2 separate regions of the Homo sapiens genome follow, and region 2 is linked to region 1. The links come from fine-mapping of genetic effects on gene expression. A gene starts in region 1. The other region holds a variant in brackets. All regions are shown on one strand. Distances are between the middles of the regions. Region 1 holds the start of ABCB9 (ATP binding cassette subfamily B member 9). Region 2 overlaps ABCB9 (ATP binding cassette subfamily B member 9).

Region 1 (4,384 bases):
AGGTGCTGCCAGCCGCCTCAGCTGCTGCTCTCCTCGTGGTGGGCACATGGGGTCCCTCAGTCCCCAGAAAGGGGCTCGGGCTCAGAAGTGGAACAGGAGGCAGATCCGCAAGAGACTCAAAACCTGGACAGCAGCCCAGGGGCTTGGCTGACTCTCCCAACCTGACTCCCAGCCTCTGGGGGAATTCCTTCCCCATCCCCCAACAGCCCAGGGTACCAGTCATGCCCCCCGCCTCCAGAAGCCTATTTATCTTCATCAGAATAAACAAAATTTCAAACACTCATATCGCAGACTACCAAAGCCACATTTTGCAGATGGGGAAACTGAGGCCCACAGAGGGAGGGGGTGAGGCTTGTCTCAGGTCATCCACCAGGCTGGGGCAGAGCAGTGCTAGCACCTGGGTCCCTGCCCCCAAGCACTAGTCCTTCTACCACAGACTCCTAGCAGAGTGGACTCCAGCCCCGGGTCGGGTTACAGTCCTCGGTGGGGACAGTTACTCCGTTATTTTTAAAGCTACTGGGCAGAAGCGTGACCACCAGCCAAGGCTGCTTAGAGGCCTGTCACCGCTCTCCAACTGCCTGACTCAGAGGATGCGCTGGGCTCGGCCAGGTGGAGCTGGAGGGCAAATTGTGAGCACATGGGTGACCTGCTTGGCCTGAGGGACAAGGACAAGGTGGTGGCCAGAATAGGCCCCACCCAGAACCGGACAAGGCCCAGGAAGACAGGGGTGGCTCGCCCTGACTCCGTGCACTAAAGAATGGCACAGGATAAGCAAGTGGCCTTGTCCCCACCAGGGGTCTTGTCAAAGGCTTTTCTTCCCAGGGTAGGAGACATTGGTTGGGGTATCTCTAGGCATCAGCTGCAGAGAAGGCCAGAAGACGATAGATAGCAGTTATTATGACGCTGCAACAGAGACCCTTTGCAGAGAAGGCCAGGAGACAATAGATAAAAGTTATTATGACACTGCAACAGAGACCCTTCACCGGGCCCTACTATGTGCCTGGCACCTCCCAAAGCAGCCAGGCCTCCCCACTTCCCTGGGAGGACCCTGTGGTCATCAGCTTCGTTTTACAGCTGGGGAGACAGAAGAGGTTAAGTGACACGCAGAAAAAGGACGAAGGCAGGATGGAGACCCGCATCCAGGGTCTCCAGGATGGAGACTCGGGGGTCCCCTGTCCAGGCTATTCAGGGATTGCAAGAAAAGGGGCCAAAGAACTTGGGTGGCCCAGTGGCCTCGGTTCACCCCTGACATGGTGAGCTTTTTACCCCGGTGTGGGCCCAGACCCAGATAAGCCCATTCCATTCGCTGCGCAGCAAAGCACTGACTGACAGAGGCCTGCTGGGTGGGAGGGCCTGACTGTGGGGGTCCCTGGCTCTGGGGCAGGAGCGGGCTGGGTCTGCGTGGGTCCATCCTGATTTCATCCCTGCTGAGCCTCTGGCAGCCCACGTGGGGCCCAGCCTCACTCTGGGACTTGAGAAGCTGTCTCAGGTGCTCTCAGCTCTAGGAGAGGCAGAGAGGCGCGAGGTGCCCTCCCTCCAAGCCTCCTCTTGTCACCCGGCCCTGCACTATCCGGAAAAGGGGAATGGGCAGAGGCGGGGATCCTGTCAGCCCAGCTTAAAGCTGTCTCAGTTAATGTCAGGCCGGGGGAGGAGGCTTTTTTTTTTTTTCCAGAGGCCCAGAAATAAAAGAGGCTCCCCTGGGAACCTACAGGCCTCACTGCCAGCGTGGATGGCGGGGAGCAGCGGCAGCCCACTGGCCTGCTGAGGAGACTGAGAAAAGGGCTTTGCCCAGGTCAGCAGGAACAGGCCAGATCCCCCAGGCTTCTGCCAAAGCCCTGGTGCTCAGGATCCCTGGGAAGCCCTGACATGGACAGTGGGAGCCCTCAGAAGGCGCGCCAGCCCCGTCCTGGGGGAACGACAGCCATCCCAGGATCCTCCAACACCTCCCACATTTTCCAAGAGGCAGCGGCGCCTTGGGGGTTAAAAAAAATGGCAACATTCGCCCTACGGGCGCGGAAAGGATGCTGCAGGGATGGGGGCTGGGAGCTGCGGCTGCGGGCTCCGGGAGGGCTCCAGGGAGGCTCCCACCTTCAACCGAGATGCCTATTCCCACCGAGGCAGGGGTGCCCAGACGCCCCCCAACGCGTGCCTGGCCTGGCACCCTGGCCTGGAAAGGTCCCAAAACCAGGGGTCTAGGGTGCCTTGCCCTTACCTGTTACCTGGCACCAGGTGAGCTCTGGGAGGGGGCGCGCAGCAGGCTCGGGTCTGGGGTGCAGTTTCCGCGCTGCTCATTGAAGACTGCGCCGGACGCGGTCCTCGCTCCGCTCTTCCCGCTGCTCCTCCCCGCCTCCCACCCGCGCTGCGCCGCTGCAAGGTCGGAGCTGAGACTGGCGTGCGTTGAGACAGGCTGATGGACGGGGCGGGGCCTCAGTGACGGAGGGGGCGGGGATCCTGGGGCAGGGACCGGCGGAGCCTCCCGGGAGGGGCGGGGCCTCAGGAGGAGTGGGCGGGCTTTCCTGGACGGGGCGGGGCCCCCGAGGAGGGGGCTGGCGAAGCCTCCGGGTGGGGACGGGCCTCCTGGGGGCGGGGCCACAGCTGGCCACCTGCTCACCTGTGGCAAACTCCTCCCACATCTGGCCAACCAGGCCCTCCACACTGCGTGCTGGCCTCCACCTGGAGCCACGGGCCCATCCTGAGGGGACGGAAATGGTTTCACCTGAAGGAGGCCAGCTTTTTAACTGGCCTTTTTCCCTGGAGGGACAGCCAGCCAGTCCAGGAGGGTGGGTTATGGTCCTCATTCATTCACTTATTCTTTCATTCGTTCACCCAACAGATATTTATCCAGTGCCTACGGCGTGCCATATGCCCTTTTAAGCATTTGAAATTAAACAATTAACAAAACAAGATCCTTGCCCTTCTGGAGCTGACATTCTAGTGAGGGTGTCAGACAACACATATAAGCAAATGAGATATATTGGAAGGGAATACATTTTACGGAGAAAATTGGTGCAAGATCAGGGATTCGGGGCATTGGAGAGGGGAGGCAGCGATATGTCCTCAGTGACTGCCAGGTGCTGGGAACACAGCTGTGTGTGAAAAGACAGAAAACTCCCAGCCTTCATGGCGTGAAGGGGACAGAACATCAGCAAGTAAGTGCATAAGGCCATTCAGGTACTGGATGCAGTAAAATAAATAAAATTGTGTAAGTGAAAGGTGAGAAGGCGTGAGCCACGGGGAGGGAGGAACATCCTACGCTAAGGCCTGCAAGTTCAAAGGCTCTGAGGTGGGAACCAACTTGGCCACTTGAGGACCAGAAAAGGGTCCATGTGGCCTGAACCGTGGGAAGTGGGTGGGGGAGTGGACTTACGGCCCAGAGGGGCAGCAGGTGGGGCTAGAACTGCCCACATCCCTGGATCCTCTGATCAGAGGCTTTGTTTTTTCCTGAGACAGAGACTCCAGGATGGAGTGCAGTGGCGAGTTCTCAGCTCACTGCAGCCTCTGCTTCCCAGCTTCAAGTGATTCTCCTGCCTCAGCTTCCCAGGTAGATGGGATTACAGGTGTCCGCTACCACGCCTGGCTAATTTTTGTATTTTTAGTAGAGATGGGGTTTAGCCATGTTGGCCAGGCTGGTCTCAAACTCCTGACCTCAAGTGATCTGCCCTCCTTGGCCTTCCAAACTGCTGGGATTAGAGTCGTGAGCCATGTGTGCCCAGCCCTGAACAGAGGCTTTTTGGAGCACTCTCTGAATTGGAAATGTCCTCTGCTACTTGGTGGGACAGCTTCTTTAGAGGGGAATTTGTTCAGAACTTACAACACTATGTTTTTTTTTAACCCAGAAGGAATTTCCTCTACAGATAGACTTGTGCAAGGGAGCTAAGGTACTAGCTTAAAGGTAGTTACTACAGTAGCAAAAGTCTGGAAATAACCTAAATACCCTTCCATAGGGAACTGGCCAAATAATTAGAGAACACCTGTTCAACAGAATACTCTGTAGCCAGAAAAAAAAAAATAGAAGACATAGAGTTATATAAAGGTATGGAATGACCTCCTAAATGTATTGAGTAAAAACCAAGGAGAGAATAAAGTTGAACCATGTTACTATTGGTGCAAAAACAAAGGCAAATATCTAATTGTACTTGAAGACGATATCTTGGATGGACTGTCCAAAAAGCAGGAGTCACTCAGAGCTGGGCTCTGTCATTTATGCTGTGTGACCTTAAAGAGGTGACTTTGCCTATCTGAGCCTGTTTTCTCATCAGAGAAATGGGGTAATAAAGATATCGACTGCATCAGGTAAAGGTAAAATGTGACAAGGCCAGTGAGGGCAGCCCCTGGCATGTGATAAACTTTCAGTAAAGGAGAACAAGGATTATTTTTAGGAGAG
Region 2 (4,384 bases), 29 kb before region 1:
GCTGAGTCACAGCACAGTGGCTCATGCCTGTAATCCCAGCACTTTGGGGATTGCAGGAAGATTGCTTGAGCGCAGGAGGTTCGAGTCTGGCCAGGGTAACGTAGCGGGACCCCATCTCTACAAAAAAAAGAGCAGGTGGCAGGGGGCAGTGCTTAACTCAGAGGGTTATGTCCCTGAGGGTGACCCTGTGGGCCCAGGAGAGGGGCCACCCCCAGCTCCACACCTGTGCTGTAGCCGTCCTGGAGTTCCATGATGAAGCCGTGGGCATTGGCCTTCTGTGCGGCCTCCACCACCATCTCGAAAGGCACAGTGGGCAGGCCGTAGGAGATGTTATCCGTGATGGAGCGGGCGAACAGCACGGGCTCCTGGCTCACCAGGGAGATCTGGGGAGGAGGGAGCATGGAGCATGAGAGGCCAGGAATGTGTTCATCCAGCTGTCCCCAGCAGCCTTGCTGCCTGGGGCCTGGAGACACCAGCAGTCTCAGGCCTGAAACCTGATCAGGGCCCAGTGACTGCACTGAGCTGCCTCTCTTCTTCCCCAACAGTGACTCCCGCCTGTACCCACAAGCCCTCAGCCTCCCCTAATCAGCAAACTGGGGCCTGCTACATTTGCTGCTCTGGGATAAGCCAAGTTCCCTGACCTCTAAGAGAAAGCTCACTGGCCATCCCTGTCCTGAAAAAAAGAAAGAGGGATAGAATATAGAATGTTGCTGTGAATGAGTCTGCTCATCTCAGGAAGCAAGAGGCCACAGCAGGGCTCCAGGTCACACAGACTGCCCTGGCGGTGGTCCCCTCCCTTCTAAGAGAACAATTTAAAGGAGCTATCATCTCTAGATTCCAGTTTCAGGAATCTGGGCCTACAAAAATAATAGTATGGCCAGGCCTGGTGGCTCATGCCTGTAATCCCAGCACTTAGGGAGGCAGAGGCAGGAGAATGGCTTTAGTCTAGGAGTTCAAGACCAGCCTGGGCAACACAGAAAGACCCCATATCTACAAAATGAAAAAAATATATAGTATGGAAGATATCATTGCAACACCATAAGTAGCAAAAGTTAATTAGTTAATTAATTAAATTAAAATGGAAACAATCTAGGTGTCCATAAATGGGGATTGGTTAAATAGTGACAGTGCATCCTTAAAACTGAATTGTAATAGATACATATACACAGCATGATTCTATTTTTGTTTAAAAAAATTATAAACGTGTACCTTCATATATTGATATATTTCTATAAAGATAGGAAACACATTGAAAAGGATATTTACTAAACTGTTAACACTGGCTACCTCCATGTGGTGGAATTCAAAAGGTAAGGTGGAGGGGAACATTCATGTCTTAGTTACAAGATTCATTACAACTATGAGAATATGATTAGCTTGTAGCATTTTATTGTTTTATGTTTATAGAAATTAACATTTTAAATTTAAAAATAGAGGCCAGCCATGGTGGTTCACACCTGTAACACCAACAGTTTGGGAGGCTAAGGTGGGAGGATGGCTTGAGCCCAGGAGTTTGAGATCAGCCTGAGCAACACAGTGAGAACCCGTCTCTACAAAATAATTAAAAATTGGCCAGGTGTACACGGTGGCTCATGCCTGTAATCCTAGCACTTTGGGAGGCCGAGGTGGGCGGATCACCTGAGGTCAAGAGTTTGAGACCAGCCTGACCAACATGGAGAAACTCTGTCTCTACTAAAAATAAAAAATTAGCTGGGTGTGGTGGTGCATGCCTGTAATCCCAGCTACTCAAGAGGATGAGGCAGGAGAATCACTTGACCCCTCGAGGCGGAGGATGTGGTGAGCTGAGATCGTGCCATTGTACTCCAGCCTGGGCAACAAGAGCAAAACTCCATCTCAAAAAAAAAAAAAAAATTGACCAGATGTGGTGGTGTGCACCTATAGTCCCTCAGGAGGCTGATGTGGGAGGATTGCTTGAGCCCAGGAGGTCGTGGCTGCAGTGAACCATGATCACACCACCACATTCCAGCCTGGGTGACAGAGTGAGATCCTATCTCAAACAAAAAGTACATAAATAGTCCAGGCGCCATGGCTCACTCCCAGCATTTTGGGAGGCCAAGGCGGGTGGATCACTTGAGGTCAGGAGTTCGAGACCAGCCTGGCCAACATGGTGAAACCTTGTCTCTACTAAAACTACAAAAAATTAGCCGGGTGTGGTGGTATGTGCCTGTAGTCCCAGCTACTTGGGAAGCTGAGGCAGGAGAATCGCTTGAACCCAGGAGGAAGAAGTTGCAGTGAGCCGAGATCATGCCACAGCACTCTAGCCTGTGCGACAGAGCGAGACTCCA[T/C]CTTAAAAAAAAAAAAAGAAAAGAAAAAGTACATAAATAAATAATTAAGAGAGGCTATTCATGAAGGAAAACCAAATGGCCAATATATGAAAAGGTGTTTAATATCTTCAGTCATCAGGAAAACACAAAAGACCACAATAAGCTACCACTACATTCTCACCAGTTAGCAAAAATTCAGGACTGACAATGTTAGGTGTCTGAGAATCGAAGCGTGGTACCTACTGCAAAGTGTGAACGGCTCTGCCCAGGGGGCTCTTCTAAAACTTTGGTGAGCAGCAGCCTGGTGGCCTCCCACTTGGCACCATTTCACAACAATCTACCTCTGGTTACATGCACATGGTGTGGGCAGATTTCACAACCCATGGCCCTCACCACCATCTCGAACTTGGCTAGGAGTTCTGGAATCTCTGTGCCAACACTCAGGCTTTCACATAATTTATGTTGATGATGTAAACGGTGCTCCCTTAATAGTTTATATTTCTTGGACAGTGCACAACCTGAGCAACCATCCAGGGCATCCCTGCTCTTAGGCCAGCACAGGGACAGGTGTTATGGTTCCTTTCCTGAAAGGATTACTAAAAACTGTCCAGTCATGAATAGCCTATTTTGAGTACTGGAGATGACCTAAATGTGGAACAGCTGAAACTCTCCTTCACTGCTAGTAGAATGTAAATTGTAAAATGTAAATTGGTATAACCACCTGGGGATAGCTGTTGTGACAGAAACTACGGCAGTTGGGGATGTACATCCACTATCACCAAGCTTTCTACTCTTAGGATTATACCTTGGGAGAACGTACTCATGTACAACAGAAAACATAGACAAAATTGTCCACATCCCACACTGGTATTTTTGGTAATGGTAAAACAAAACAAAACAAAACAAAACTGAAAAACAGGCCGGGGGCAGAGGCTCACACCTGTCATCCCAGCACTTTGGGAGGCTGAGGCAGGAGGATCACTTGAGGCCAGGTGTTTGAGATCAGCCTGGGCAACATGGTGAGACCACATTTCTACAAAAAAATAAAATTAGCTGGGCATAATGGCATGTGCCTGCAGTCCCAGCTACTTGGGAGGCTGAGGTGGGAGGATGACTTGAGCACAGGACTCTGAGGCTGCAGTAAGTTGTGACTGTGCCACTGCACTCCAGCCTGGGCAACAGAGGGAGACCCTTTCTCAAAAAAATAAAAATAGGCCAGGTGCAGTGGCTCATGCCTGTAATCCCAGCACTTTGGGAGGCCGAGGCGGGTGGATCACGAGGTCAGGAGATCGAGACCATCCTGGCTAACATGGTGAAATGCCGTCTCTACTAAAAATACAAAAAATTAGCCAGGCGTTGTGGTGTGCACCTGTAGTCCCAGCTACTCAGGAGACTGAGGCAGGAGAATGGCGTGAACCCGGGAGGTGGAGCTTGCAATGAGCCGAGATCGTGCCACTGCACTCCAGCCTGGGCGACAGAGCGAGACTCTGTCTCCAAAAAAAAATAAAAATAAAAATAAACAAATAAATAAAATAAAATATAAAGGGAAACAACCCAGCGAGGCACGGTGGCTCACGCCTATAAACCCAACACTTTGGGAGGCCAAGGCAGGCTGATCACCTGAGGTCAAGGGTTCGAGACCAGCCTGGGCAACACGGTGAAACCCTGTCTGTACTAAAAATACAAAAATTAGTCAGGCATGGTGACGCACTCCTGTAATCCCAGCTACTAGGGGGGCTGAGATAGGAGAATAGCTTGAACCCGGGAGGCGGAGGCTGCAGTGAGCTGAGATCTCACCACTGCACTCCAGCTTGGGCAACAGAGCAAGACTCATCTCAAAAAACAAAAATAAAGGGAAACAACCCAAATACCCAGAATGCATAAATAATTGTGATAAACATATGTATAGTGGGTTACCACCCAGCAATGAAAATGAATGAACTCTGTCCCCAGCCTCAACCTGGATGACTCACAATGTCGAGTGGGAGACACAAGACACAAACTAATCCACACACCAATCACGATTCTACCCAGATGAAGTTCCGAGCAGGCAGCACAGAGCTCAGGGGTGCACACAGAGATGGCAGAACCAATGAAAA

The links. PIP is the estimated chance that this variant, and not a neighbour inherited with it, causes the effect.
Region 2: its variant is fine-mapped to the expression of ABCB9 in cerebellar hemisphere (GTEx, PIP above 0.99). The same link has a PIP of 0.9 or more in cerebellum.

Annotation. Positions count from the first base shown.
Region 1 is chr12:122,964,075-122,968,458 of GRCh38, forward strand. ABCB9 (ATP binding cassette subfamily B member 9) reads right to left here and starts at 2,389. Exons shown (of 12, transcript NM_019625.4): 1 at 2,213-2,389. RefSeq lists enhancers at 1,030-1,837, 1,838-2,643 and a silencer at 2,408-2,697.
Region 2 is chr12:122,935,049-122,939,432 of GRCh38, forward strand. ABCB9 (ATP binding cassette subfamily B member 9) reads right to left here. Exons shown (of 12, transcript NM_019625.4): 10 at 224-383. Among named protein-coding and RNA genes, the nearest start is that of ABCB9, 29 kb to the right of the region's middle. The variant T/C (reference allele first, on the strand shown) is at 2,307.